Regions from separate parts of the Homo sapiens genome. Here regions 1 and 2 are each linked to region 3. The links come from fine-mapping of genetic effects on gene expression. A gene starts in region 3. Each other region holds a variant in brackets. All regions are shown on one strand. Distances are between the middles of the regions. Region 1 overlaps UTRN (utrophin). Region 2 overlaps UTRN (utrophin). Region 3 holds the start of UTRN (utrophin).

Evidence for each region.
Region 1: its variant is fine-mapped to the expression of UTRN in whole blood (TOPMed, PIP above 0.99).
Region 2: its variant is fine-mapped to the expression of UTRN in whole blood (TOPMed, PIP above 0.99).

The regions. Positions count from the first base shown.
Region 1 is chr6:144,346,061-144,354,242 of GRCh38, reverse strand. All of the region lies in intron 2 of UTRN (utrophin), which reads right to left. Among named protein-coding and RNA genes, the nearest start is that of SNORA98, 56 kb to the left of the region's middle. RefSeq lists an enhancer at 4,955-5,064. The variant G/C (reference allele first, on the strand shown) is at 4,470.
Region 2 is chr6:144,625,657-144,633,838 of GRCh38, reverse strand. The region is part of intron 51 of UTRN (utrophin); the gene reads right to left. Among named protein-coding and RNA genes, the nearest start is that of SNORA98, 220 kb to the right of the region's middle. The variant A/C (reference allele first, on the strand shown) is at 3,559.
Region 3 is chr6:144,281,551-144,289,732 of GRCh38, reverse strand. UTRN (utrophin) reads right to left here and starts at 4,398. Exons shown (of 75, transcript NM_007124.3): 1 at 3,912-4,398. It overlaps LOC124901418, which reads right to left and starts at 3,235. Exons shown (of 1, transcript XM_047419641.1): 1 at 1,779-3,235. The coding sequence starts at 3,062. The coding sequence ends at 2,454. RefSeq lists silencers at 4,459-4,558, 4,769-4,828 and an enhancer at 4,959-5,028.

The sequences.
Region 1 (8,182 bases), 65 kb before region 3:
CCTGTCAACAAGCATATCGTTATTGTCAGGGTGTCAGTTTATAGCAGCATTCACACCCACTGCCTTTCTCATTTACTGCTTTAGATCTAGAAACCGATACCCAAGTGTGAAAACAGTTGCAAAATGAGAATCTAAGGCTCTTCACTGATGTGCCTGCACTGCACAGGTGAGGACACAAGTGTCCATCATCATCTCTGCAAGGCATATGCAGTGGTTCTAGGCTGCCAGTAAGTAGAATCCTTAAGTTTAAAACCAACTTTAAAACATCCCAGCACCTTCACAACAACGACCGCAGCACCCAGCAAACCACAGTTGCTCAATAAATGTTCACTGAGTCATTTATTTTTGGCTCCTTGGTTTTTTTGTTTTTGTTTTTGTGTGTGTTTGTTTGTTTGTTTTAGACAGTCTCGCTCTGTTGCCCAGGCTGGAGTTTAATGGCAGTATCTCAGCTCATTGCAACCTCCGACTCCCAGGTTCAAGCGATTCTCGTCCCTCAGCCTCCCAAGTAGTTGAGATTACAGGCACTCACCACCACACCCAGCTAATTTTTGTATTTTTAGTAGAGACAGGGTTTTGCCATGTTGGCCAGGCTGGTTACTGTTTTCTTATTTCTAATTCCTAGTCATGTGTGGCATAGTTGAAGCTGACAGAAACATGAGCACTGCAGTAATTAGGAAACATAAATAGCCAGGCACAGTGGCTCACGCCTGTTATCCCAGCACTTTGGGAGGCCAAGGCAGAAGGATTACTTGGGCCCAGAAGTTCAAGACCCTAACCTGGGAATAGTGAGACCTTGTTTCTATTTAAAAAAAAAAAAAAAAATCAGAAGGGCCGGGCACGTTGGTTCACGCCTAAAATCCCAGCACTTTGGGAGGCAGAGGCAGGTGGACCACAAGGTCAGGAGATCAAGACGTTCCTGGCTAACACGGTGAAACCCCATCTCTACTAAAAATACAAAAAATTAGCCAGGCATGGTAGCATGCGCCTGTAGTCCCAGCTACTCGGGAGGCTGAGGTAAGGGAATCGCTTGAACCTGGGAAGGGGAGGTTGCAGTGAGCTGAGATCGCACCACTGCACTCCAGCCTGGGCAACAGAGCGAGACTCTTACCCAAATAAAAAAAAAATCCGAAAAATGAGCTGAGCGTGGTGGCACATGCCTGTAATCCCAGCTACTCAGGAGGCTGAGGTGGGAGGACTGCTTGACCCCCGGAGATCGAGGCTACAGTGAACCTAGCTCATGCCATTACACTCTAGCTTGGTTGACAGAGCAAGACCCTGTCTCAAAGAAAAAAAGAAAAAGAAGAAGAAGAAACATAAATAGATGAGAAAATTTAGAAAACTACTGGAAAATCAATGCTGACAGTCTTCCTAACACAAACCCAATATGATAAAAATGATTCATTATAAAACACCAGGCAAATATTATTTACTGAATAACTTCCCAAATTATGGGAAATAAATGTCAATACTTTATTTCAGTAATCAAGACATAGATTTACCTTGAACGACCTTTTATTTTTATTTAGATTTGATTACTCAGAAATGTTGCAGCGTAAGGCCTAGTAACAAATTCAGCAAATATACAGAATGCAATCTCAAGGACTTTTTAAAAGAATAGTGCACACTTCACTTAGTCACCAAATAAATTTTCATCATAAAACATAAGATTCTCCTTGCAACAGCAGGAGAAATGCATAGGAGGGAGGCAGACAGATATGACATGTCCCGTGGGACATGAAAAGGGAAATGAGAACTATTGCCTCAACCAACTTGCAAAATGTCCATAACCTCCCTCTTTAAATACCATCACTATGAAATTTTTAATGCATATAAGCAAAGTGAGAATTTAATAATTATTTTAAAGAATTCACATGGGCAAAGGTAAAATATAATAATTCATTTCAAGGTGTTTATTTCTCCTCTATCCCCAAAAGTCCCTTAAACCACATTCGTACACACACAAAAAAGATTCTACTTTTCCTGCTATAACACTCGTTACTCAGAGTTAGATAATAAATACTGATTAACAATCAGTGGGTCTCAGAGTATTGGCAGATGCTAGATTGCATGGGTGGGTTAGAGTTACCTCAGTAGAAAGTGAATTTGCTAGGGGAATAAATTTCTTCTGTCAAACACAGTCTAGGAGCTACTAACACCAGAAAGAGAGTAATGGCCAATGAGTCCAAGGAGAAGCTAAAGGCACAGAATCCAGAAGTCAACAAGAAAATAGGCCAGGGCAGAAGCCAAGTGACTAACTCTGGCAGCAGGTTCCCAGCAAGAGACTGGCTGAGCCAGGAGAAAAGTAGCAGTGTCGGTGTGATAGGAGTTGCTTCTCAGAGTGCCAAGTGGATCGCTATCTGATGAGGTATTTCTACTGGCGATATGTGCAAGTGACCTGGAAGAATCTGTGCAAGGTGCCTATCTTACAAGTGCCACACAGCCCAGCCTTTCAGAGTATTTGGATCAGCGGCATTCAACTGAAATCTATCACGTTTCCAGACTACTATGACAGTTCACCTCTATTTGGAGAAATAACCTCTCTGCAGACTAAATAAAGCTTTTTATATAAGGCATCAAAGGCAAAGAGCACAGAATCATAGGGGAGGCGGCTGCGTGCCCTTTTCCTTTGCTTGCCTGCTTGCTTGCAAGCAATGAAAACCTTTCTGAACAAATGATAGCAAACTTTGAAAACAGCAAAACATCTGGGGCATCTTGCCACAAAGATATCCTCCACACAACTGCAGGCCATTTGCTGTCCTGTATAGCTCTCTATTTCCTGCCATTTACTGGATCTGTGGTTAAATGAACCCAACATAGAATTACAGCTTCAATGCTTTGATGTGAAAAATCACTAACGAATCTAAATTGAAGGACGAGGACACACTGGTAAATTTTCAATATGATGGTGCATACGGGGCCTCATTTAAACTAATGTCTTATCTTCACTTAGCATCTAAATGTATTTTTTCCTGTACTGACTTGAAATACTCTAACACAAACAGACACCATTTATTATAATCCTTCTTGCAATCTGTCAAGTTATGTTCAAAAAATTTTACAAAGATGTACCTTTAAAGACTGACAACAGCCCCAAAACAGGAGGCAGAATAGTTAGGGCTTAATTTTAAGCCTAACTCCACAGCATCTTTCTGCTAACTCCATGTTCCATAAAATATATAAAAAATGGTTTTTTTCATAAATAAATCTGGGACTTACCATCCATATGGAAATAATTTATCAGTATACGAAAATGTAATAAAATAGTGTATCTAAATAACTACTAGTCTCAGCACAGTTTGGGATGATGACGTCTTCCATATCAGCCAAAAAAAGAAAGAAAATACTATAGAATCTAAGTCCAAAGACTCAAACCTCTGTCCTAGATATCTGAAAATAATATCTATCTTTTAAGGTAGCAGTTAACCATTTTAGAACTCAAAAGAAATTCAAATAAGTCCTCCCAAATCTGCCATTTTGTAGGAATTTCCCTTGGAATCATTAAGAGTATAAAAGTCAGGGATCCAAGCAACAAAAGAAAATGAGCAATGCATGAAAAGCCAAATCACTGACGAATTTGTCCAAAGAGCCAATAAACATATGCAGAGAAGTTCAGTTCCACAAAAAAAGAAATGCAAGTTCAAACAACTATAGACTACATTTCATCTCTCTACATGTCATCTGTTGTAGATGACGATTTAACAGTAAAAGCATATTTGCCCCAGCAATTGCCCAAGTAAGCGAAGATACATGTACACAGGTAGTTTTTAATAATGTTTTAAGTGGGATGCCACTAAATCAGGATGGTTTCAATTTTGGTTCAAAAAAGAAAAGCCATGCTCACCCATAGAGGCATACATTTTTACATTCATAGAAAACAAGGGTAGCAGAAGAAACGAAACTATTAACAATGGTTTTGGAGAGAGGAAGGAAATGACAGTTTTCTACTTTGTAGAATTTTCATTTTGCATTACATTTTTTTTTTTTTTAGAAAACAGTCTGATTACTTAAGATATTTTAAAGGACATTTGAACTATATTACTAAAAATTAAATTTGGAGTCAAAAACGTATTTAAATGCTCCTTTTCCTTGAGAGCAACTCCACACAGAGGGCCACAGGAATTCCTGCCCAGCTCACAATCTAAGTTTCAATACTCTGCAGCTCAGACAGAAAGTTTGGCCTGTGTTCCTTTAGTCCTAGACTAAAATTTCACTTTAGCACAATGGTAGAACCTGGCTATGAGTCATCTTCCTCTGCAAAACAATGAAAGGTCTAGTTCAGTGGGAAAAAACGACTTCAGTTGCCAGTTCATTGAACTGTTCAAATTAAGGTCAAAATACTGGAGCAGGAGCGAGGGAGTCGCTGTGTCCAGATCCTATCTAACCCCACACCAGTCCCCTGAATGGCCCTCCAACCAAGTCTTGAATTTGCAAACGGTTAGAATAGGAAGCACCTGGTGCCCTCTAAGTAG[G/C]GGTCAGAGAACGCAAGTGAAAACATGAAACAGATCCAAATCCAGTTTCATGAGCATGCCTTTCAAGTAATGCCAAGGAAAAATATATCAAAAACATGATGGAGTGCACAGCTTCAGCTTAAATATATTTCAAGTACCATGATGAATATAATGTTTGATTTCCTACCCTAGACTCTACCTAAAAGAGCCCATTATCAACAGACTAGGTTTTTATAATTTTTACAGAATTTATTATTCCATTTATTTACCTGGAACTATTACTATAGCTTGCAAAGAACTTTAAAATGTGTAACATCATGAATCCTGACCACACTCTCCCGGGGCATCCTCCCTGGTTGGGAGATCCTGTGATCCTCCTGGTTGGGAGTCCCCTTCTCAGAGGTTCAGTGACTTACCCTGACGATGGCAGGGGTAATGGAAACCCAGATCTTGAGGGCCAAGTCTCATCCCTTAAAGAACTGCTCAGGGCCAGGCGCCGTGGCTCATGCCTGTAATCCCAGCACTTTGGGAGGCTGAGGCGGGCGGATCACGAGGTCAGGAGATCCAGACCATCCTGGCTAACACGGGGAAACCCCGTCTCTACTAAAAATACAAAAAATTAGCCGGGCGTGATGGCGGGCGCCTGTAGTCCCAGCTACTCGGAAGGCTGAGGCAGGAGAATGGCGTGAACCCGGGAGGAGGAGCTTGCAGTGAGCCGAGATCCCATCACGCGCTCCAGCCTGGGCGACAGAGCGAGACTCCGTCTCAAAACAAAAAAAAAAGAACTGCTCAGTACCATGTTAATCCCATTTCTCATTTTCTCCACCCAAGATTCTTTTCTTTTGTTTTTGTTTTTTTTTGAGATGGAGTTTCGCTCTTGTTGCCCAGGCTAGAGTGCAATGGCGCAACCTCTGCTCACCACAACCTCTGCCTCCTAGGTTCAAGCAATTCTCCTGCCTCAGCCTCCCTAGTAGCTGGGTTTACAGGCATGCGCCACTAGGCCCGGCTCATTTTGTATTTTTAATAGAGACAGGGTTTCTCCATGTTGGTCAGGCTGGTCTTGAACTCCCGACTTCAGGTGATCTGCCCGCCTCGGCCTCCCAAAGTGCTGGGATTACAGGCATGAGCCACCGCACCGGCCGATTCTTTTCTTTCACATGTCGCTCTTTCTACTCTTTTTCTCCCAACTTAACAATTCTCATTCTCTCACCTCTGTAAGTTATAGTTACCTGGTCTTCCTAACCACCTACTCATTTTCTCTATAATTATTAAGATCTGCAAAAAATTCACGAGTCCTAAGATATCTTCCCAGACAAATCTCACTGCCCTGTGATCACTCCAAATTCTGTGTTCCTTTATTTGGATATAGTCAACTGGTGGGTCTGGCAATCCCTAACATATGACAAAGATGACAACGTTCCTTCCTTTCAGCCACCAGCAAACCTAGCATTCACTTCACACACCATCCTTTCCAGGTCCTAACCTCCACGGGGGAAGAATCAAATCACCTTCATTTTTATATCCCCATACCTCCCCAGAGCTGGGCGTGTGCTAGGTACCTAGCAAATGCTGACTGAATAGATGAGTGTGGTCGTCAACCTCCTGGAGTTCCAACACAAAAGACTTGAGCTCCTTTAAGAGTGAGTCACGGCTGGGCATGGTGGCTCAGGCCTGTAATCCCAGCATTTTGGGAGGCCAAGAGGGAGGATCACTCGAGCTCAGGAGTTCAAGACCAGCCTGGGCAACATAGTGAGATCCCATCTCTACAGAAAAACTATTAAAAATTAGCCAGGTATGGGAGCACATACCTATAGTCCCAGCTACTCAGGAGACTGAGGTGGGAGGATCACTTGAGCCTGGGAGGTCAAGGCTACAGTGAGCTAAGACTGTGTCACTGCACTCCAGGCTGGGCAACACAGCGAGACTTAGTCTCAAAAAAAAAAACAAAAAAAAAAAACAAAGAATAAGCCACAGTTCAGGAGATTCTCCCAGGAGTGTCCCCATCTGGCCTCACATCCACATTCACACACACACACTCAGCCCCTGATGAAATTCTCTTTCCCAAAGTTCTCAACCTGCCTTGCCTCATAAGGACACCACTGCCCTGGAGCCTTGTCTCTTCTGAGAGGTCTGTTCAGCATTCCCCCAGATCAGCCACCTGTTCCCCTGTGACCTTTTCCTGGAGTGTCTTCCAAGATGACAGCCACTGTTCAGCCTAACATAGCACACTCTCCTACATCAGCAAAGACCATAACTAAGCCTCTGTCCAATCTTCTTCCAACTTCCTGTTACTCAAAGGAACTAATTCATTCATTCATTCCACAAGCAGCTACTGAGCCTCTTCTGCACATCAGGCACACATTCAGGTGCTAGGAGGCAGCAGTAACAAAGCTGCCTCTACTCCCTCCCATGGAGCTTTCAGTCTAGTGGGGGACGAATACATTCCCCTGTACCCTCCACATTGGACACCCTTGGCTGGCTTTTGACAAGCTACAGAGCAGGGCCTCAGTCCAATCAAGTCACGATCTCTGACTGTGGGGCACAAGCATGTTGGTGATTCTAATGGGGGACCCAAGTAGTGAATCTTTTAACCCTTCCATCTAAAAAGGAAACAGCTGACATAGAGTCCTGTCAGCAGGCAAGAAAGCAGGAAGGATGGCAAAACGAGCAGGGCTCCCAGGAGTGGTTTCCTGAGCAGTGGCAATTTCCAGACATGAGTCATCTGGGCCTTCATAGATGCCTAAATGGCCAGTCCCGCCTCCAAATTATTCATTTCACATTTTCAAGCTTGTTTTGAAACTTTGGTTTATCTCAGTTATATTATTGTTAGCATCTAGTGAAAATGATGATACAGCTGGATAAAGATAGAGATCGATAGATAGATAGATGATAGATAGATAGATAGATAGATAGATAGATGATACATAGATAGACAGAGAGATAGTGATAGAGATAGAGATCTATTTTTTTTTTAAACAGAGTCTCGCCCTGATGCCCGGGCTGAAGTGCAGTGGCGCAATCTCAGCTCACTGCAACCCCCGCCTCCCGGGTTCAAGCGATTCTCTTGCCTCAGCCTCCCAAGTAGCTGGGATTTCAGGCACCCACCACCACACCCAGCTAATTTTTGTATTTTTAGTAGAGACGATGTTTCACCACATTGGCCAGGCTCCTGGCCTGAACTCCTGACCTCAGGTGATCTGCCCGCCTCGGGCTCCCAAAGTGCTGGGATTACAAGCATGAGCCATTGTGCCTGGCTGAAAATATTATTTTTAACATTAAATTTAATGTCCTTATTTCTAACAAGATGACTAAAGAGCCTACACTATGGACACACACAAAAAAATCAGTTCAATAGCAACTGATGAGAGGAGAATCTAGGCCCTTGTGAAATTGGAAATCATGTACACATTGGTTTTCTATTTTTATTAAAATAACATGCACTGAAATACATTTTAATTTTAAAAATGCTATTTTCCTAAAGCCTTTTGATTGGTCATAGGGCAGGAAAGAATGTTATCTAAATGAACCAGAACTCAACCAGCACAGCATTTAAATATATTTAACACTGTAGCTACTCATTTAAAAGCCTGCTTTTTTATTTTATTTTTTTTTTTTTTGAGACAGAGTTTTGCTCTTTCACCCAGGCTGGAGTGCAATGGTGTGATCTTGGCTCACTGCAACCTCCACCTCCCAGGTTCAAGTGATTCTCCTGCCTCAGCCTCCCAAGTAGCTGG
Region 2 (8,182 bases), 340 kb before region 3:
AGTATTTTCAGTTTCCTGGGATTGAATAAAACCATTTTAAAAGAATTTATCATACCGAAGGGAAGGAAAAGAATGAAAACTAGTCTAACAGATAACTAAAAACATGCAGTTAATTCATCAAATAGAATATTAGTGTAGTGCAGCCCATTAAATGGTACTTAGATTGCTTTTCCTTTTGATGACTACTCTGGTGACTATCTGAAAGAAATTGTGTGTTCACTGAGATAATGTACTCACTACAAAACAATACATCATTCAATGCCACACTTCTGAGGAAAAAATATTTTGTGAACAAAATGGAGAAGCAGGCCGGGCGCGGTGGCTCACGCCTGTAATCCCAGCACTTTGGGAGGCCAAGGCGGGCGGATCACGACGTCAGGAGATCGAGATCATTCTGGCTAAAACGGTGAAACGCCGTCTTTACTAAAAAAAATACAAAATATTAGCCGGGCGTGGTTGCAGGTGCCTGTAGTCCCAGCTACTCAGGAGGCTGAGGCAGGAGAATGGCGTGAACCCGGGAGGCGGAGCTTGCAGTGCGCCGAGATCGCGCCATTGCACTTCAGCCTGGGTGACAGAGCAAGACTCCGTCTCAGGAAAAAAAAAAAAAAAAAGGAGAAGTAGTGAGTTATATTTCAAGTTTCCTTACTCCTTAAGAAATGTACTATCTGACGGAATAGGTAAAATAATTATAAATATATATGTCCAATTTATTTTGTTAAATGCCTCATTGCACATAAGCAATGAAGCACTGGCAAAATACTAAATTATGCCAAATATTATTGGTTGTTTAAAAACATACTTTAAAAAGGTAAAAGTTGGGCCAGGCATGGTGGCTCATGCCTGTAATCCCAGCACTTTGGGAGGCCAAAGCGGGCAGATCACCTGAGGTTGAGAGTTCAAGACCAGCCTGACCAACATGGAGAAACCCTGTCTCTACTAAAAATACAAAATTAGCCAGGCATGGTGGTGCATGCCTATAATCCCAGCTACTTGAGAGAATGAGGCAGGAGAATCGCTTGAACCCGGGAGGCGGAGGTTGCAGTGAGCCAAGATCTTGCCATTGCACTCCAGCCTAGGCAACAAGAGCAAAACTCAGTCTCAAAAAAAAAAAAAAAGTAAAAGTTTACAATATAAAAATAAGTCTATTCTTACACAGTATTTCTAACATTTGTGAAAACAAATCACGGGTATGCTCTTGCTGTTAAGATGTAAAAATTAAATAAGACCGCAGGTATCAGAGAAAGGAGTTTCTGCAGTTCAAGACTGAGGACAATATTTTACAAAATTGTACATCTCTGCTGTCAAGAAAGACAATTTATAAAGGTCTGAGTCATGTTTGCTATTATTTCACTTCTCATATTTCTGAAATTTTCAGGAAAAAAAAGTAGAAAAAAAACTGCACCTCAATCTGTCTGTAAGTTTCTATTACTTACTTCCCAGATCTTCAATTTGAGGAGATGTCCCCCATCTTACTGAGACTCTCCAGCCATATTCACAAACGTTTCTCAGCTTTTGATTTCTTTTTCAGTGTCAGTATATTTATAAAATATATTTTAACACTTGGATACAATTATAGAACAGAATATAGACAATATGAATAACCAAAAACCAAATGTTAAAAAAAGAGGATCCATTTTCATAACTTAGTGCAGTTGAGACTTAAGTTGTTTTCACATAGGATGGAATTAAGAGGAAACTGGGTTTTCTCAGTACAACTTTGGTTCCCTCAAGATCATGTAAAAGCTAGATGGTCCCCACAGAATTCAGAAAGCTTTCGGATATGCATGTTCTAATAAATGTCTTTACATTTTTGATGGACCCTGGCGCTTCCCAGGTCCCTTACAAGCCAAGGTATCTGAAAGACTTTTTCTTAACATCCAAAGGGTAGCAATGTCAGTCTTTTACGATAACTCAGAAAAGGTCAGAATTTCTTCACCATGGAAAATTTAGCCTCCATTCCCTCTAAATTAATTTTCCTTCTTTTTCTTTCTTTCCAGAGCATTAGTATGCCTCAGTGAAGTATGACATTATTGTGTTCCGAATGCCAAGTGGAATAACTTATAAAACTTTTTTTAATAGAAGGAAATAGAAGATAGAGCCCAAAGCCCTCCCAAATATGAAATGTGAAAAGAAGTAAATGAGAGGAGAACCGATCCACAGTAGACAAAATGAAATAAAATATTCTACGCTCTTTTGAAATGATGACAAGCACCTCTCTCAACATCCTTGATTACCTGTTAAGTTACCACAATTTTCCAATACATACGCCAAGCTCTCAGCACTCCCTGCTACTCCTTTCCCTCACAAAACCTTTTCTTCCTTAATTATGTATCCCCACAAATTAGTCATTTTTGGAATTTAAAGAATGATGAGCCAAGAGTACTTTAAGAGCTCTCTAAACTAAAACTTCTTTCCAAACTCCCTCTCTTTCCTCCAATATTTGGAATATAAGCTATACAATAAGATATCCTAAGATCAGCATTGCTGGAGTTGGCCAGGTGAAATTAGTGAATGCCAGACAGGAGGTTACTTAGGAATAGTTCCAAGTCATCTTCAAAAGAATAGTTACACACACACACACACACACACACACACACACACCTCTCTCTCTCACACACACACACTCACTCTCTCTTTCTCTCTCTCTCTCTTTTGGTTTTACCTTCAGCAATGCAACCTCAAAAACTTGTACTCCATCCTCATACTAGAAGGGAATATCACTTAGCAGGTTCAGCTACAGACAAGGACAGAGAAGGATCTTTCCACTGCAACTGATATGACACCCTCTGCTTTGCCTCAACCAAGGTCAGGGGACATGACCGCTAATACCACTGCATGTATGAAGGGAAGGCAAAGCAGGGAAGAGAGAAGAACCAAAACCAAAATAATAAAAGTATCTTCTTTCTTCTTCTTTTTTTTACATGCAGATGAAAAAAAAATCTGAAAAGTCTTCTTGGGGTGGTTATTGTGAAAGAGCAGGGCTGAATGAGGGACAAGGAGGGTGACAGTTGCAGCACAGGACACATAAGCAGATAAATACTGAACTCAAGCCTAATCTTCAGGACTACAAACCGAGGAAACATATTAATGGTATGCAGAGTAACTTAAATATGCATATAACAAACTCTCCAGCTCAATTCTATTCAATAAATATTTATTAATGACCTGTTTTGTATCAGGATGATATGGTTTGGCTCTGTGTCCCCATCCAAATCTCACCTTGAATTGTAATAATCCCCACGTATTGTGGGAGGTAACTGAATCAGGGGGAAAGGTTTTTCCCATGCTGCTCTCATAATAGTGAATAAGTCTCACGAGATCTGATGGTTTTATGAAGGGGAGTTCCCCTCACACACTCTCTGGCCCACCGCCATGCAAGACGTGACTTTGCTCCTCCTTTGCCTTCCACCACGATTGTGAGGCCTCCCCAGCCATGTGGAACTGTGAGTTAATTAAACCTCTTTCCTTTATAAATCACCCAGTGTCAGGTATGTCTTTATTAGCAGGGTGAGAACAGGCTAATACACAGGCCCTCAGCAAAGCATGAAAATTAACAAG[A/C]CTAAGCTCTCCTTTTGAGTGTTAATCCTTCCTATAATATATATGCTTAGTAACTCCCAATCAGAATGCCACTTCATTTTTTATTTATTTTTTGAGATGGAGTCTCGCTCTGTCACCCAGGCTGGAGTGCAGTGGCGAGATCTCGGCTCACTGCAAGCTCCGCCTCCTGGGTTCATGCCATTCTCCTGCCTCAGCCTCCCGAGTAGCTGGGACTACAGGCACCCACCACCACGCCTGGCTAATTTTTTTTTGTATTTTTAGTAGAGATGGGGTTTCACCATGTTAGCCAGGATGGTCTCAATCTCCTGACCTCATGATCCGCCTGCTTCAGCCTCCCAAAGTGCTGGGATTACAGGCGTGAGCCACTACGCCCGGCCAGAATGCCACATTTGAATGCTTTAAAATGTTTTAAACTGTCTTCCATATTCTAGATCTCCATTCTACATTAGCAGGTATGCAATATGCCTAAAATGACACAAATAAATTAAATTACAAAGGAGATGGAATTATCTTTCACATATCTAAATCATGCCATGGCTAAAGCAGAAGCAAAGTTTCAGCTCAGATGAGGAGCACAGTGATTACATGACAACATCTACATTGGAGTTCAAAAGCACCAGGAACAATCCAACAATGCTTAAAGGAATTAGTCTCTAGACTTAAACACTTAGGCATTTAGGATGCAACATCCCTGCTTCCTTGCTGGACATGGAATCACAAGACTCAGAATAGAGGTTACTTTTTGAGAGAAGAAGGGGGATCTGATCAAGGAGGCACAGACAGCTTCTAAGGATCAGCAATAACTTGGAATAGTGATTGTTTTAATTATGATTCTTCATGCTGTCCATGTATGTTTTACATACTTTCCTGTATGTATGCCACACTTTAAAATAAAAGACAATACAGCAAGTATCTCTGGAAGAGCACACAAGAAACTGGCATCGGTGGCTGCCTCTTGCAAGGGCGGTGACAGTCTATGGTCATGATGCGTCATTTAGGACGCAGTACACTAGATTTTTTACTACACATCCTTTTTGCTTTTTTTTTTTAAACTATGTAGCACCTTCTGAAAAATAAGTAAGAGCAAATAAGCAAATATGCTAACACTTTGCTCACGCATGATATTAAGATTCAAGGTAAGCAATGAAGATTTGTATGTCACAGTCAAAGGGAAAGATTTTCAAGAATGTGGATAAGTACTGCTATTGGCCATGCTCAGAATAAAAGAAAATTTCATAAAGAGAGCTACCAATGTAATAATCAATTTTCCATACACAGGGTAATCATTAATCAAATTTAACAGTTGCAGAACCTTATTCCTCCAGCCCAAAGATTTGTCATATTTTACAGGTCCAATGCCACACAGGTTAAATGCCCTGATCAGTTAAACCAGCCCTCAACTCCAGAACCTCCTATCTGCCCGGGCAGTTTAACTCTGTAACAATGACCAATGTATCCCAAAGAGATGAGAGTTGTGAATCGTCAGATCTATCATCCTCAGCCTCAGGGAGCCCCCTGAGGAATCTGAGATTCACCATACTGTAAGAACCCTTAATAGTCACATACCAACCAAAATGGAATCAACAGAATGTTTCTATGCGTTCTTTTGGATGATTCTATTTAGGATATGAGTTAGTAAACCATGAAATCTAGTTCACAGAACAACTCAGAATGAAGGAGCTTTAACTAAAGCATGTCTATTAGAGAAAAAGTCAAGGAAAAGCTGAAAATGTTGGAAGTTCTAAAGAAACACAGTTTAAACAGCTCAGTAGGGCTTCCAAAGAGAAGCATTTCAGTGGAATTCTTGTGGGATAGAAACCAATGGTTTCTGGTGGAAGTTTTAAGCACTGGAGTTCTGCACACATTTCAAAAAAAAGGGGCTAACACCCTCCTCTCAGGAGTACAATAATAAAAGAATACTATATTCATACAGATTTTTCAAAGGAAGTGAACACTGGAACAAGAGCTTTGAGAGGTGAATAAAATATCTGATTAAAACGTCATGTTTATATAGACCCCAAAGAAATGAAAGCAGAGACTAAAACGGATACTTGTACACCAATGTTCATAGCAGCATTATTCACAATAGCCAAGAAGTCAAAACCCAAGTACCCATAGATGATAAAGAGATAAGCAAAATGTGATATATGCATAATAATTAGCCTTAAAAAAGAAGAAAATTGGCCAGGCAAGGTGACTCACGCCTGTAATCCCAGCACTTTGGGAGGCCGAGGCGGGTGGATCACGAGGTCAGGAGTTCGAGACCAGCCTGACCGACATGGTGAAACCCCGTCTCTACTAAAACTACAAAAAATTAGCCGGGAGTGGTGTTGTACACCCATAATCCCAGCTACTCAGGAGGCTGAGGCAGGAGAATCGCTTGAACCCGGGAGACGGACGTTGCAGTAAGCTGAGATCATGCCACTGCACTCTAGCCTGGGTGACAGAGCGAGACTCCACCTCAAAAAAAAAAAAAAAAAAAAACACAGAAGGAAATGCAGAAATGTGCTACAACCTGGATGAACCTTCAGGACATTATGCTAATGAAATAAGCCAGTCACAAAAAGACAAATATTGTATAATTCCACTTGTATAAGGTAAGAGTAGTCAAATTCTCAGGTACAGAAAGTAGAGTGGCCATTACCAGGGATTGGAGGGAAGGAGGAAGTGGGGAATTACTGTTTAATGGGAACAGAGTTTCCGTTTGAGATAATAAAAAAATTCCAGAGATGGCTAATGGTGATAGTTGCACCACTGTAAATGTTTCTAATGCCACTGATTTGTACACTTAAAATGGTTAAAATGCCATATTTTGTATATTTCACCATAGTTTTTAAAAAGATCATATTAACAGAGTTACAAAATAGAGCAATGAATTCAAAGACAGAAAGATAAGGGTTATCAATATTATTAAAAACGCCTCTTATCTGAATCACATGAAGAAACAGAAAGTAAACCGATAAATGAATGTAACAGCTATTACTCCCTTTGACAATGCTTTGGCCTTTACAATGGGAATGACACCATTTAGATGTAATGCCCTTGTGCAAAGCACAACTGTACCCAACATCTTCCTCTTGGAGACAACTCTACCCCCAACCCTACCCCACCCCACCCTCCTATCCCATTCATCCTCCCACTGTGCCATGCTCCTCCCCAGCCCCCTAACCCCCCATCTGCCGCGTAGTGCACACACACACACAGGTAGGGCAAAAGGTTACTGAATGGGGCCTAAAACTAGGTCAGTGTTTTGTTTGTATATATCAAATCTTATTTCTCAATGATCTACAAAGACATAAGATATAAACCAGAGGCTGCAAACTGAAATGCCTAAAAGAGACATGCAGGTAACACAAACGCAGACTGTGATTTGTGTATAAGAAAAGCCACAACACCAGGTGGATCACAAGGTCAAGAGATCGAGACCATTCTGGCCAACACGGTGAAACGCCATCTCTACTAAAAGTACAAAAATTAGGTGGGCGTGGTGGCGCTTGCCTGTAGTCCCAGCTACTCGGGAGGCTGAGACAGGAGAATTGCTTGAACCTGGGAGGCAGAGGTTGCAGCGAGCCGAAATTGTGCCACTGCATCTCTAGCCTGGGCGACAGAGCGAGACTCCGTCTCAAAAGAAAAAAGAAAAGCCACAACACAAACTTGCTACAGAGGCAGCAATCTCAGTGTTGGGGGAAACTGAGTGGCCTGTAGGCAGCTGTGGACATGTGCAAACCCACTGTAACCAAATCTACCGATTTTTCTGCCTTAAAAGAGGAATTATTTCTAACTCATGAAGGTGGAGTAGAATTGGAGAAATGCAGAAAGGCGGGGAGGAAAGCGGATTCACGTTTGAGGTCGGAATGTCATTTGGGTTCTTCTCTAGTCTGGCCCTTGACCAGTTGCGAGAGGGAAACTGATTTAAAGGAGATTGGAGTGATACTTTGTGCCCAGAAAACCTGCAGACGTCTCTGAAAGCCATGCTTGGGATAACAAACTATTTATTACTGACCCTGTGATAAGGAGAGTTTTTCAGATGTTTGTTGAAATAATTTTTGCAGTACCATGGTAAACAAACTGAAAAGGTGAGAGATAATAGACTAGTTTAAAAATGTAAATCAAGATTTGCATGAATTCTTTAAATAAACACCCATCACTGCTTAACATATTTTTAATTAATAACTATACAAGTCCATATTTGCTTTCTTTGAAAGTATGAGGCAATGAAAATAAACTACTGGTCACTGTCAGCCCCTAATTTCTGTGATACAGCTATAGAAATATTGTCTGAAAGAAAACTGTTTGATCGGTCCAGTGTCAACAGAAACTTTTCAGCCAGAAACTGATTTTTTTTCCTTCTTTTCAAGCTTAGAACAAGGCTTTATAAAATCTCCAGTTTTGTTTATGTTTTCAAAACAATTAAACATCATTTGATGTTTCTCAATTATTTTTGTCACATAAAAGGAAGATGAAATATATTCAACTGGCCCCATGAAAGCAAAAACAATCTTAGTAAGGCTGTGCTTTAGGTTTACTTCTGTGGTACAGAAGGTAAAGATTCTAATAAGTAATAGAGGACTAAGGGGCCCTAGGGAAAATATGTAGAGCAAATCAATTCATAAGTATTTGCATT
Region 3 (8,182 bases):
TGGTTACAGTGAGCCGAAATTGTGCTATTACTCTCCAGCCTGGGTGACAAGGGCAAAATTCCATCTCAAAAAAAATAAAGTAAGTGGGAAAACTTGTTAAAGGGCATCTGGGTCTAGGCGAGGTGGCTCACACCTGTAATCCCAGTACTTTGGGAAGCTTAAGCGAGAGGATTACTTGAGCCCAGAAGTTTGAGATCAGCCTAGGCAACATGGTGAGACCTTGTCTCTACTCCATGTAAATAAAAATTTTAAATAATAAAATAAAATAAAATAAAAAGGACATCTGGGTGTTTATTGTGCTATTCTTTCTATTGTAATATTATATGCAGGAAACAAGTGTGGTCTAAACAAGAGTAGATAGAAAGAAATGGGTGAATATGTGGGATATTTAGATATCAAAGAAAGTCAATAGGATTTGGGAATTGATTGGATATGAGAGATTCATATCCAATGTGCAAAATGTGCAAAATGACTCCCCAATTTTGGCTTAGGCAATTAGGTGAAGTGTGAGTCATTGAGCTGGGCAACACTGAGGATAGCAGGCTGGGAGAAAGGAATCATCAATGTGATTTGGATTTGCAGAGCTTGAAATGCCTCTGAGTTATATAAGCGGAGATGACAAAAAGAGAGTTGGGCCCAGCATGGTGGCTCATGCCTGTAATCCCAGCTCTTTGGGAGGCTGAGGCAGGCAGATCACTTGAGGTCCAGAGTTCAAGACCAACCTGGCTAACACTTGAGGTCAAGAGTTTGAGACCAGCCTGGCCAACATGGCGAAACCCTGTCTCTACTAAAAATATAAAAATTAGCCAGGCATGGTGGCAAACACCTGTAATCCCAGCTACTCAGGAGGCTGAGGCAGGGGAATTGATTGAACTCAGGAGGTAAAGGTTGCAGTGGGCCAAGATCGCTGCCACTGCACTCCAGCCTTGACGACCGAGTGGGTGAGACTCCATCTCAAAAAAAAAAAAAAAAAAAAGAGAGAGAGAGAGAGTTGGATATAAAGGATTGGATCATCAATCTGACAGATTTTATGAGAGTCTAAAAAACTTTTTTCATTTTTTATAGGCTCTACTACTGCTAAAAATTTATGGATTATTATATGATTACATTCTTTCATTCAAGTACATAACTATAAAGGATTTGCTAAATTCTTAAGTGTATTTTATTATATTCAAGAATCAAAAACTTTGTTCAGAAGAATGTCTATAAAAGTTTATCATGGAAAATTAAGTTTGCCCAGGGAAAAATTCTCTTTCCTGGAAAGAACTACAGTGTATCACTTTGGAGCAGTAAGTCTAATGCTTTTCTTCACTATTGGTCTTAGCCAAGATCTCCACTTCTATGCTACCCAAAGCCTTTATTCACCCATAAAAGAGAAAAGTCAACTGTTTACACACTACTTTATTCCATTTGCCCATTATCAGTAACACTTCTTCACTATAATGTTTCACTTGCCACTCTCCTCAAGGTGATTTTTCAAATTTTTCTCTTCTTGATAATGAAAATCCCTTACAGGTTGCAAAGATACAGCAGAAAAGGTGATCAGAGTACAGAGGAAAATGGGGAGAAAGAAGAATAACAGAAGGCTATTTAAATAGTGATAGCCACTGAGGTTACTTGCCATTAATGGCCAGAGGAATTTGAGTACACTTAAGGCAAAGGATGACTCCTTCTAATTGCCAAATGCAGAATCTTTGGTTCTCAGGAGACAGAATCAAAGTTTCACCACGAACAATGCATCCCAGTGTGACCCTCCGTCTTCCACACCTATAAAATGGAGGGAACACCATCTTCACAGAAGGCTAGGTGAGAAACTGAGAATCAATGAATGAGATGTTGCTTTAGAAGCTTCAAGCCCTATACAAATGCAATTTATTGTTACCTCTGCCCTAGATTTCCCTTCCCTCAAATGATATTCTGTAAAAGCCAGATGTTCTTACTGAAACCAATCCAGTCAAGTCGATATTCACTAACTCTCCCTTCAGAACGCTTCCGGCTGTCATATGGACCACCAAGCAAGAGTGTATGAAATAAACATAAGGTGTTTAAAAAATAAACATAAGGTGACAGCCTTAAAGACAAAACTAATGTTTCAATTTTTTAAGATTTTAGGAATTATACAATGAATATATGTATATAATTTTTATTTTGTACTATATTTTATGTATATAGCACATATATATCCAACAGTGTGCATTATGATGGAAATGCTGTGTAATGCAAACACTATTCATTAATTTACTATAGGAACCAAAACCTAGGAACGATTGAGATAGTAGAAAAGGAAGCCAAGCGGACAAGAGTTTGCTGCTCTGCTTGAAACACAGTAAAAGAAAACGGTGAGTGCCAAGAACTGCCATTTACACTCGGAAGCGCTCCAGGGAAGGTTAATACTACTGTGATTAATACTGTTTACAGAGCCAATAAATTTTAGGTAAACACCCAAAGGAGAGTTAAAGAGTTGTCTCATCGGTCCCATAAAGGCTGGTAAAAGGGGCGGGGAATGGTTCCACGCCAACCCTGTCCGTCACCGCAGAACTACCCACAAGCTTCGCATTCCTCCACCTCTCCCCTGACCCTGAGCTATCCGCAGGCTGCGTCTCCCACGCCCACCGCCAACGAACCGGGAGGGCCCAGATCGACTTCCTGAGGCCGGTGCAACTTACAAAGGAATGGATGCGGTCGCTGCCGCCCGGCCGGGCGGCCGGGAGGGTCGGCTCAGACCTAGGGAATCCGGCCTCCCCCGAGCTCCGCGCGCTCTGGCCGCGGCGACCGCTGCACTGACCCTCCCAACCGCGGCAGGGGGAACTGGCCCGCAAGGCCCTGGTGATCCGGCTGACCTGAAGGCTGGGAAAGAGGAGGCCCTGTCCTGAACACCTCAGAGAGCGGGGCCGTGGAGTTAGAACCCGAGCTCTGCAGTTCCTTGTAAAATAAAGTGCTGGTCCCACAGCTCTCTCGGAGGTCGGGCAACGTTTTCTCCCTCCTCCTCGAAAAACGCACTGGAATGAGTCCCTTTCATAATCTGAGGCTTGGAGGAAAAAATCCTTTGAACAACCTGCCATCTGAAAGTTGCACAGCCTTCAATTGGTGCTTTGTTGGTTTTTAAGTGGCCTTGAGCAACCACAGCCTCGGACCCCGGGCCAAAGCGGGGCATGAATTACCTTGTCAGTTGCAGCAAGAGATCCCCAGAGTCCGGAAAAGGAGAGCCGGCGACTGCGCGGGACTACACACCAATGGGGCGCCCCCCTCCTCCTGTCCCCTCAGTCTCTCCAGGGCCGCTGCCAGGGAGCTTGGCGATCGCGCCACACTCTCCGGAGCCCCACCCTTGGGAGCAGCAACCACCCAGAGGTCAAGCACGTTCCCCGCCGGGCGGCTGGCTGGGAAGCGCTCCGCTGGCCGCCGACCACACAGCCACCCTCTGCCCACCCTCTCCTGTGGACACCGCCGGAGCCCCGCCTTCCCCGGGCCCGGGTGTCTGTGACAGACTCTCCTAAGAGGCCACGTCCCCTCTTGCAAATCACTGGCCCAGCGCCCTGCACCGCGCGATGCACGGAGGGCGACTCTGTCACCCCGGCGGGGAGGAAGATTAGGGGAGCAGGGAGGCAGCACAGAGCTGGTCAGATAAGTTTGGATCGTTCACAACTAGTACGGATCCCAAGGACCTCCACGCCCGAGCTCTCCACGCCTCCGGCATTCTCTCTCGCACCGCGGGGAGCTAAACTGAGGCCCCGAGGAAAGGGCACGCAAAAGTTACTCCCATCTTCGACTCTGGGACTTGGGAAGCAGCTCGGGACGCCGATCCCAGGCGGAAGAACCACAGAAAGAGCCATCCTCCTCCCGGCCCCCGCCCCATTCCCTCGGGGGCTGTAGTCACATTACCAGCCCGAGGCTTCAATAATGCATGGGCTTACCTGCTGCCCGCGGGCCTCCTCGCCTGCCGGTCGCCACCGCCGCACCCCGAGCTGGCCAAGGGCTCCTCTAGGAGTTTGACACGGAGTAACCGCGGGGGTGTGTGCGAGTGTTAGTTTGGTGGTGCGATGTATTTAAAAAAAAAAATAAAGCTTGGAGAAGCAGACACGAACCGAAATTTTAAAAAAAGAAAGAAAGAAAGAGAAATTGACACCCGACTGAAAACGCCCCTTACTTGTGCAATCTTCCTGCCTGGTAGTTCCGCCAAAAACAAAACAGTCAAAGCGCAAACCTGGAAGGGGCGCGCAGGCACCAACTTTGCCAAACGCTACAGAGTTTTCCGTTTGCAGAAATGACCCAAAAGAAGGGGGGCGCCGCTCCCCGTGATTCCCCAATCGGCTTCTGGAGCCAGAGGCTCCTCCTCGCCCCTCGGCGGGAGAAAGCCCGCGGCCGGCTGCTGCTGCCCGCTTCCCTGCTCCGAGGAAAAACGACTCCACAACTTTGTGCGCGAGAGAGGCTCGCTCCTTCGGCGGCTCCTCCTCCTCCTCCCCGCTGCGGGCCTGCCCCTTTGTTGGAGCCGAGCGCTGGAGGCGGAGGAGGGAGGGTGGGGCGCAGGACCGCTGGGTCGCGCGTTGCCGCCCCCACCCCCCGGGAAGGGGCTCGCCTCCGGGCAGCCAGGGGTCCGCTCTCCAGATGAGAAGGGTGCAGATCAGCGCCAGCCCTCCGGCCCGCGCCTCTGCAGCGCTCCGGCTCCCCCTCGGCGCTCTCGCCCCGCCGCCGCCGGCCCAGCAACTTTGTTCCGGAAGATCAGCCCCACTACGTTCCCGGGTCAGCGTCTGCCGGGCCTCGGCGGTCACCGCGGCCACCGCGTCGGGAACTTGGCGCCCCAAGTCACCTGACTGCGCGCCCCGTCAATCAGCGCCGGCCCTGCGCGCCCTCCCAGCCCGCAGCAGCCCGGCTCGGCGCTTGGCTGGCCTGGGGCGCGCGCTCCAGAGTGAACCGTGCGTGCCGGGAGCCGGGAGTCCGGAGACCGAACCAGAATGGATGCCTCGAGCAGACACAATTCCCCTTATTCAGATTATCCGAAAATGTGAGTCACGTCCCCTTAGGCAAAACAGGTCTCTAGTTAGGGTGATATTTTTTTAAGAGATAAATTCCAATCTGCCTTCCAACTCACCCCATCTCAGTTTGCTGACGTTGCTGATTTTTTTTTTACCCCTAGTTCCAACCGTATATTTATTTTACATTATTTCTCTAGTGTCGTTGTTAATATTGAAAAAGAAGTTTTCTCTTACATTAGTTTGTATTACAAGTAGTGTTTGCGCTGACCTTATTTTTCTGTTTTCCAATATGCACACACAAACGCACATCTGTTATAGAGCCTGTTCCAAGCTTGAGAGGTTGACCAAAAAATATCTGGGAAGAAATGAGCTCGTGATGTGTGTGCATTTTTCTTATTTACACATTTCATTGCTCGTGTGTTCCTGTGATTCTTTTACACGATCAGCACACGTGGGAGGGGAAAGAAAACAGCAACCTGAGTTCCTAGTTCGTATTAACAGAGAAAAGGATGGTTGATACTGGAGCGCCGGTTTATTGCTGGCTTAATATTTGAGTTAATTTACGCGGCAGTAAAGATTAAACCACTAGGGGCCTTAAACTAATTTTCAGAAAGAGTTTACTCGCCTTTTGTTATAGTGAAAGTTTCCCCCATCCATCCCTAAGTGCTCCAGGGAGGGGGCAGGTAGGAGATTCCCAAAAGAGACTCTTCCTTGTAAGGTTTCTAGGACAGTTTCCTTCCTTTTGATGATTTTCTACGTATAAGCCAAATAAAATCCAAAGGATTAACTTGAAATGGGTATGATTTTATTCATTCACTTCATTCATTCATTTAACAAGCATCAGTTTAGGGCTGTCAGGTTTGCTGGTTCTGTGGGTAAAGCAAAGATAAATCTGATAGTGATCTTACCCTTAAAGAACTTGGAATGTAGTAGGTGAGATAAGACATGTAAACAAGTAAGTATATACAAGATCCGGGAGATAAATGCCATAAGAAAAGAACAGATCAAGTGCTAGCTGAGTATGGTCACATAGAGGGACTCCAGGATTTTTTCTTTCTTTCTTTCTTTCTTTTTTTTTTTTTTTTGACAGTGTCTCTCTCAGTTGCCCAGGCTGCAGTGCAGTGGCGCGATCTCGCTCACTGCAAGCTCCGCCTCCTGGGTTCACGCCATTCTCCTGCCTCAGCCTCCCTAGTAGCTGGGACTACAGGCGCCCACCACCACGCCCTGCTAATTTTTTGTATTTTTAGTAGAGACGGGGCCTCCCAAAGTGCTGGGATTACAGGCATGAGCCACCGTGCCCAGCCCCCAGGTTTTTTTTAACTGATCATTTTGCAGACACCAAAAGTTGCTTATCACTCACTGTATCCTGGTTGAGTTGATGAAACTCAGATTTTCTCCTTCAAAATAGATAATAAGGCCACATTGGAGTGTTTGATGATGTTGTCACTTAAATTAATATTTGTGACACTTTTCACAATTTACAAAGTAATACATCATTTTAGCTCAAAAATTTTGAAAAACGCACGTTTAGGGTCCTATGATTTCTGGGATTGTAAGCTGTGAGGAGATGTTTAGTCGAGCTTCCTCAACGCCTGTAAGAGATGGAACAGGAGGCCAACAAGCCACCTTCTGTGCAGGAGTGACCTGCCCCGCATATCAGCCATAGTGGCTTACAGCCAGTTACCTGGGGACCTGTGCCCTATCTGTTTCTAGCCCTTCTCTCCAGGCAGAGACTGATGCTCTTTGTAGGTAATGAGCAAAAGAGGCTAAAGAAATTCTTGTTGACTGGGTGCAGTGGCTCACACCTGTGATCCCAGCACTTTGGGAGGTCGAGACAGGTGGATCATCTGAGGTCAGGAGTTCGAGATCAGCCTGGCCAACATGGAGAAACTCTGTCTCTACTAAAAATACAAAAATTAGCTGGGCGTGGTGGCACATGCCTATAATCCCAGCTACTCAGGAGGCTGAGGCATGAGAATCGCTTAAACCCCGGGGCAGACGTTGCAGTGAGCCAAGATGGCGCTACTACACTCCAGCCTGGGTGACAGAGCAAGACTGTCAGAAAGAAAGAAAGAGAGAAAGAGAGAAATAAAGGAGGGAGGGAGGGAAGGAAGAGGAAGGGAGGGAGGGAGGGCGGAATTCTTGTTGATGGAACGATCAAGAGATCTCAAGCTGGTCCTGTGCTGGTCCTGTCCCCCAACACTTTCTTTATTTGGTAGGGAAACCACATTTGGTGGGCGATCTTGACCACAGAGGGCTATATTTCCATAAAGCACAGTGTGATCTTCCTTTATATCCAGAGAATCTAGGTGAGGCACGGTGGAGACAGGCCTCTAAGGTAATGGGCCTGCAACAAGGATGCTCAGTGGGGTTTTGTCTGCTCATCCCAAAGATCAGATCGCTGTAGAACATCTGGAGAGAATAATAGGAATGTGGCCCTGGGTCTACTGGTAACCCAAAGTCAGAATTGCCCTGCTGTCACCACAGAACTGTGAAAATTAAGGAAAATGGAGTTAGTGTCACTGCAGGATAGAAAGCCTTTGACAAAGGAGAAAATTATGATATGAGTAGTGTATATATAGATTCATATATAAAGATATATGTATATGTGTGTATAGTGTATATAGACATGATTCACATAAATATTATTCCCATACAGGGAACTGCATCCTAATATAAGAACCAAAAGGAAAACATTTGCTACTAAACTTTGTGCAAGACTATATAAATGCAGTTTTTCTTTAAACAGTAGAAACAGGGGAAAATACACAATGTATAAAAAAACAAGACACTCCTTTAGCTTTACCTTTGGTATTGACTATAATTAAAGCCCCACATACAAGCATTTAAGAGAGGAGGAAAGTTTAGGGAATTTAGCCTTTCTTATATTTTTCAGGTAAAAAAAGTATAAATCTGGAGCTTGTGTGTAATAGATACTGGATTTTTGCTGAGTATTGTTGGTAAATTCTTCAGTCAAACGTCTAGTATGTGTGCGAGTTGATAAAATTTTATCATATAAATTTTTGTAATAGAATTGAAGAAACAAAAAATAATAGCACATGAAACTTTTAGAAAATAAATAGTACAAAGGCTGAGTTCCTTACAACTTAATGCACTCAAGAATTACCCAGAGAATATATTTTAAATTCAGATTGATTGCCATTCCCCAGAAATTCTGATTGACTAGGCCTGGTGGGGCCCAGGAAGCTGCA